2 separate regions of the Homo sapiens genome follow, and region 1 is linked to region 2. Evidence: fine-mapped expression QTL. A gene starts in region 2. The other region holds a variant in brackets. All regions are shown on one strand. Distances are from middle to middle.

The links. PIP is the estimated chance that this variant, and not a neighbour inherited with it, causes the effect.
Region 1: its variant is fine-mapped to the expression of HOMER3-AS1 in prostate (GTEx, PIP 0.98).

The regions. Positions count from the first base shown.
Region 1 is chr19:18,328,350-18,331,251 of GRCh38, reverse strand. LOC124904654 (a long non-coding RNA gene) reads right to left here and starts at 2,527. Exons shown (of 2, transcript XR_007067158.1): 1 at 2,473-2,527. RefSeq lists an enhancer at 2,799-2,902. The variant ATG/G (reference allele first, on the strand shown) is at 1,101.
Region 2 is chr19:18,938,537-18,941,438 of GRCh38, reverse strand. HOMER3-AS1 (HOMER3 antisense RNA 1) reads right to left here and starts at 1,185. Exons shown (of 3, transcript NR_134913.1): 1 at 815-1,185. It overlaps HOMER3 (homer scaffold protein 3), which reads left to right and starts at 222. Exons shown (of 10, transcript NM_004838.4): 1 at 222-388; 2 at 2,390-2,470; 3 at 2,555-2,711. The coding sequence starts at 2,457. RefSeq lists a silencer at 59-258.

The sequences.
Region 1 (2,902 bases), 610 kb after region 2:
ATAGTAAAAACAAAAACAAAAACAAAACAAAACAAAACAAAACCCATTTGAGGAATCTCTGCTTCTTCTGACTCTGGGATATGAAGGCGGCCAAGGACAGGGGCAAATGAACCTCTGTTCTTTGGTTGCCTGCACCCCAGGAATGCACTGGGCAAGGTACAAATGATATTTTGTTTCAGCTCAGGTGGCCATGGATCAGGAAGGGCCTGATCCATGTGAGGCTCCTGGTTCCCCGGATGGGAGAGGGTCACTGCCTTGACCAGCGAAGCGCAACCCAGGAGGGTGTCTGCGTTTCCTTTTTTTTTTTTTTTGGAGACGGAGTTTCACTCTTGTTGCCCAGGCTGGAGTGCACTGGCGCGATCTCAGCTCTTTACAACCTCCACCTCCTGGACTCCAGCGATTCTTCTGCCTCAGCCTCCCAAACAGCTGGGATTGCAGGTGATCACCACCATGCCCAGCTAATTTTTGTATTTTTAGTAGAGATGGGGTTTCACCATGTGGACCAGGATGGTCTTGATCTCTTGATCTCGTGATCCGCCCGCCTTGGCCTCCCAAAGTGCTGGGATTACAGGCGTGAGCCACCTCGCCTGGCCCAGCTAATTTTTTTTAAAAAAACCTGCTATTTACTTATTTACTTTTAAGATGGAGTCTCACTCTGTTGCCCCGGCTGGAGTGCAATGGCGTGATCTCAGCTCACTGCAACCTCTACCTCCCAGGTTCAAGCGATTTTCATGCCTCAGCCCCCCAAGTAGCTGGGATTACAGGCACACGCCACCATGGCTGGCTAGTTTTTGTACCTTTAGTAGAGACGGGGTCTTGCCATGTTGGGCTAGGCTGGTTTTGAATTCCTGACCTTAAGTGATCCACCCGCCTTGGCCTCCCAAAGTGTTGGGATTACAGGTGTGAGGCACTGCGCCCAGCAAAATATTGCTCTTTTAGAATTGGCGATATTGCTGTGAGGCCCTGGCATGGTGGTTCCCTTCACCCGAAAGACTTCCTTAGTAGAAATGTTCAGAAATGGATTGCTGAGCTGAAGGGTGTGATACTTTTATAGCTTTTGAGATATAATACCAACTTTTTTCCCATTTAAAAGGAAACAC[ATG/G]TTTGCCAGTTTCATCACAACCTTGCCAGTACTGGCTTTTATGCTGTTCTTTTTTTTTTAGTAGTGGGTAGGGTATTTTTGTTAGTTGGAGACGTACATTGATCTAGACTTCTTAGGTTTCTGCTGGAAGAAATACAATTTTTTTTTTTTTGAGACAGAGTTTTGCTCTTGTTGCCCAGGCTGGAGTGCAATGGCATGATCTCGGCTGACTGCAACCTCTGCCTCCTGGGTTCAAGTGATTCTCCTGACTCAGCCTCCTGAGTAGCTGGGATTACGGGCACCCACCACCACGCCTGGCTAATTTTTGTATTTTTAGTAGAGACAGGGTTTTGCCATGTTGGCCAGGCTGGTCTCGAACTCCTGACCTCAGGTGATCCACCCGCCTTGGCATCCCAAATTGCTGGGATTACAGGTGTGAGCCACTGTGCCCGGTCAGAAATATAATTTAAGCTGGATCCAGAATAGGATTTTGGTTAGTGGAATACGGAAGAATGAAGATTTATGAAGCATCAGATACAGCTGGGCTCAGGCTTAGACACGGCCATGACTCTGCAGTGAAGAAATGGCCATGGCTATACCTGACTGTGATCGCCGATCACTCCAGCTCTGCAATCCCAAAACCATCCCAAGGAAGATTTTTTTTTTTTTTTTCATAGGATCTCGCTCTGTCACCCAGGGTAGAGTGCAGTAGCATGATCATGGCTCACTGCAGCCTCGAAATCCCAAGCTCAAGCCATCTTCCCATCTCAGCCTCCCAAGTAGTTGGAATTACAGGCACGTGCCACCACGCCCAGCTAATTCTTCTTAAGTTTTTTTTGGAGAGATGAGGTCTCGCTATGTTCCCCAGGCTGGTCTCGAACTCCTGGGCTCAGGTGATCCACCGGCCGGCCTCCCAAAGTGCTGGGATTACAGGCATCAGCCACCATGCTCAGCCAGCCAGGGAAGCCTTCTGATTGCCCCAGCCTGGGTCATGCATTCATGATGATAGGGGAGGGTAAACTGTCCTGAACAGCCCCAAATAGAGCCCCAGGAAACCTCTTAGGTCCTTGCTCCTACAAGTCAAAGTTGAGAGGGCTGAAACAAGCAATTACAACATGGCATAAACCAGGCAATGATGGAAATCAGTGGAGGGTACTAAAGTTCAAAGTATAAGAGAAGGAATGATTAGCTTTTGAGCAAGGCAGCTAAGGAAGAGTTCACAGAGCAGATATGCATTAGTACTGGCTCTTTTGCCAGGGACAGACTGCAAATTCCAAGTGGATGAAGCAATTAAAAAAAACTTCTTGGGCTCATTTAAGCTCATCATAGCTGTGGCTTCAACTATAGCTGGATCCAGGGGCTCAAACCATACTTCCCTTTCCACCGAGTACCTCCGTTGTCTTGTGTCTGCTGGATTATTTCTGCAGAAAGCTTCTTCCAGAGGACAGAGCCTAAGGGGTGCTGGACTTTCCCTTTAACTCCCCAGGAACCAGCTCTTCTCCCTCCCAGCCCTCGGTATCCTTCCCAGGGGAGAATCTCATTGGCCTTGGTAAATTCCGTGCTCTTTCTTTAACCAATCCCTGTAGCCAGGGGGATGGGGAACGCTGATTGGCCACCCTTACTGTTGAAAGGGCAAACAAAAAAACTGCAGTAACCACTGGCTGCCACAAGGGGACACCGAAGCAGAGGTTTCAACGATGAATAGGAGTTTGCAAGTTGTGCAAAAAAAGAAAGACTGCATGTAGAAAAGTCTAGAAAAGTCAGAAAGGATGACCCAGCATGCGGTTTGCTGCTACCTTCATCGCCATGTTGATGCTGGGA
Region 2 (2,902 bases):
AACCCCCCCCCCCACTCCCCCTCCACCGCCCCTAACCCCCTCCCTCAATCCTCCGTCCCTTCCCCAGTCCCGGCCCCCGCCCCTCCCCCTTATCCCCTCCCCCATACCCTCTCCCAGTGCAAAAAGCCGGCAGGGGGCGCAGCGGGGCGGCCTTGGCGGCCCGGGGAGGCGGGGCGGGCGGCGGCCGCGTCGGGACCGGCCGCGATGGGACCGGAGGCGGCGCGGGCGGCGGCGGCGCAGACAAAGGCACGGGCGGCGTGGAGGGCGGCGCGGAGGGCGCGGGCCCGGGAGCCAGGGAGCGAGCGGGGCGCCCGGCAGCGCGGAGTCAGCGCCGCGGGGGCCGCACCCGACTCGCGCCTGGACACTCGCGGGGCGCCGACCTGGCAGGGTGAGCCCGGCCTGCCGAGCCTGCGCTGGGAGCGCGGGGGCCTCGAAGTCCCAGGGCCAAGGGGAGGGCGTGGGGGTTCCCCAGAAGTTTCGGACCCGGGACTGGGAGCGGCGCGAGGGGTCCCCAAGTTCCAGGGCTGGAGGGAGCGCGGGGGTCCCGAAGTTCTGGATTCAGGGTCTGAGAGGGGACTGCGTGGGAGGTTCCCAAAGTTCTGGACCCGGCGTTGGAGGAGGCTGCGAAGAGGTCCCCAAAGCTGCGGACCTGGGGTGGGGTACTGGGGTGGGAGGGGTCCGGACGTCCCGGACCCAGGGACTGGAGGGGTGGCAGGGGGTCCTCGAAGTTTAGGAGTCTAGGACAACGCGGAGGACCGGGGTCCCGGACCCAGTTAGAGGAGGAGTCACGAAGGGAGTCCCCGGAGTTACCGACCTGGGGTTGGAGGAGGCAGAAGAGGTGTCCCCCGAAGTTCTGGACCCAGAGACAGGGGGCGTCGCGGGAATCTCGGAAGTTCCAGGGTCAGAGCCCGCGTCCCGGAGTTGGGGCGTGCACTGGGTGTCCTGCCTCGGGTGGGGATGGGATCCTGAATTAATATTAACCCCCCCGTCCCCCGCACTCGGGTGCATGGGATGGGGCCTCATCCACCGGCCAGATTGGGGATCCCGGGCACCGGGCGGTGTCGGACCCCCCTCCGGGAGCCCCGTGGCCGGCGGCATCCGAGGCGCATGACTAGTTGGTGAGTAACTTTCCCCAAACGCTGCAAGTCGCAGCAGGAGCTGCCGGACCGGAAGGGCCTGGGTTCCGGGGACCCCTGTGTTCCCCAACTCCCACCCGGCGCAGGACCCGCCCCCAGTCCAGGCCAGAGCTGCCGCCCCACCCCCACTCAGGGGCTCCGGTTTCAGACCCTGTGACCAGGACAGCAGCTGCCCAGGACAGGATAGGGGGGGCATCCCCCCTTTGACCACAGAGGCCGCTGGGCCAGGGCCTCCCCTCCCCCACCTGTCTTCCCCCTCCTCCAAACTCCTCCTTGGTCCCCTGCAGATTCGGGGTTGCTGAATGGCCCAATGGGGAGGTTGGGGAGCCCTGGTCTCCCAGTGTGGATTCTGCTCTGCCCTCATGGTGGGCATTGGGATTGGCTGTTTGTCTACATCTTGTCTTTTTAACTTGGCTGGGGGCTCCCTGGGGATTTGGACTCTGGACTTCAAGGTGTGCTTCTGCCCTAGGGTGGGAGCTGCTGGGGGTGGGGTCCCTCTGCAGGGTGTAGTGGGGAACTGGTCTCCTGGTACTACACACCTCTCAACGCCCCATTTTTTGGTGGAGAGCCCCGCTCTGGCCAGTCATGGGTGAATGTGGTGGAAAGAACTCAGCAGAGATTTGGCCTCCACAGCTCAGCCTGGGATGGAGGGGACTTCACGGGGGTGCAATAACCAGGACAATGAGAAATTTACATCTGGATGTCAGCGGCCACCAGGCTCCTCTCAGAGGGCCATCTCCTGTACAGGGTGTTGTGGGGGCTTCCCCTAGACAAAGAAAGATGGGGTCTGCTTGCTCTGAGTTATCTATAATAATTATCTTACCTTTTTGTTTCTTTTTATAATTTCTTTCTTTTTTGAGACAGGGTCTCACTCTCTTGTCCAGGCTGGAGTGCAGTGGCCTGACCATAGCTCACTGCACTGCAGCCTTGACCTCCTGGGCTCAAGTGATCCTCCCACCTCAGCCTCCCCAGTAGCTGGGACGGCAGGCACATGCCACCACACCCAGCTAATTGTTTAAATTTTTGGTAGAGATGGGGTCTCGCCATGTTGCTCAGGATGGTCTCGAACTCCTGGGCTCAAAGGATCCTCCTGACTCAGCCTCCCAAAGCACCAGGTGTACTTTGGGCCTCTCCTGCCTTTTTGATTGAAAGTTCCATGACGGGCACACCTGGTGATGGGTCCTGAGATGGAACCTGCTTGGCCTCCCTCAGCCTGGCCTGAGGGACACTCATAGTCCCTCCTCTCTCCCTAGGGGCCAAACCAGTGCTCCTGCCACCTCTCTGGCTGCCCCCTAGAGCCTGCCCATCCCAGCCTGACCAATGTCCACAGCCAGGTGAGCTCCCACCTCCCCCAGCCTGGCCCTGAGCTTTCTAAGTGGGGGTGCCTGGCCCCCACCAAACACCCTCTCCCCACGCAGGGAGCAGCCAATCTTCAGCACACGGGCGCACGTGTTCCAAATTGACCCAGCCACCAAGCGAAACTGGATCCCAGCGGGCAAGCACGCACTCACTGTCTCCTATTTCTACGATGCCACCCGCAATGTGTACCGCATCATCAGCATCGGAGGCGCCAAGGTCAGGGTGGGGTCTGGGTGGGGCAGAGGCACCAGGAGTCCTGGTGACAACCTTGGGTCTGGTGGCTGGCTTGCTGTGTGCCCAAGGGACAGGAAACCCTAAGCCTTCCCAGGCCCTAGTCTCTATCTCCTGAAAGGGTTCAGAGTAAAGACCTTCAAGACCCTAATACAAGGTAATACCTGGGGGGTTTC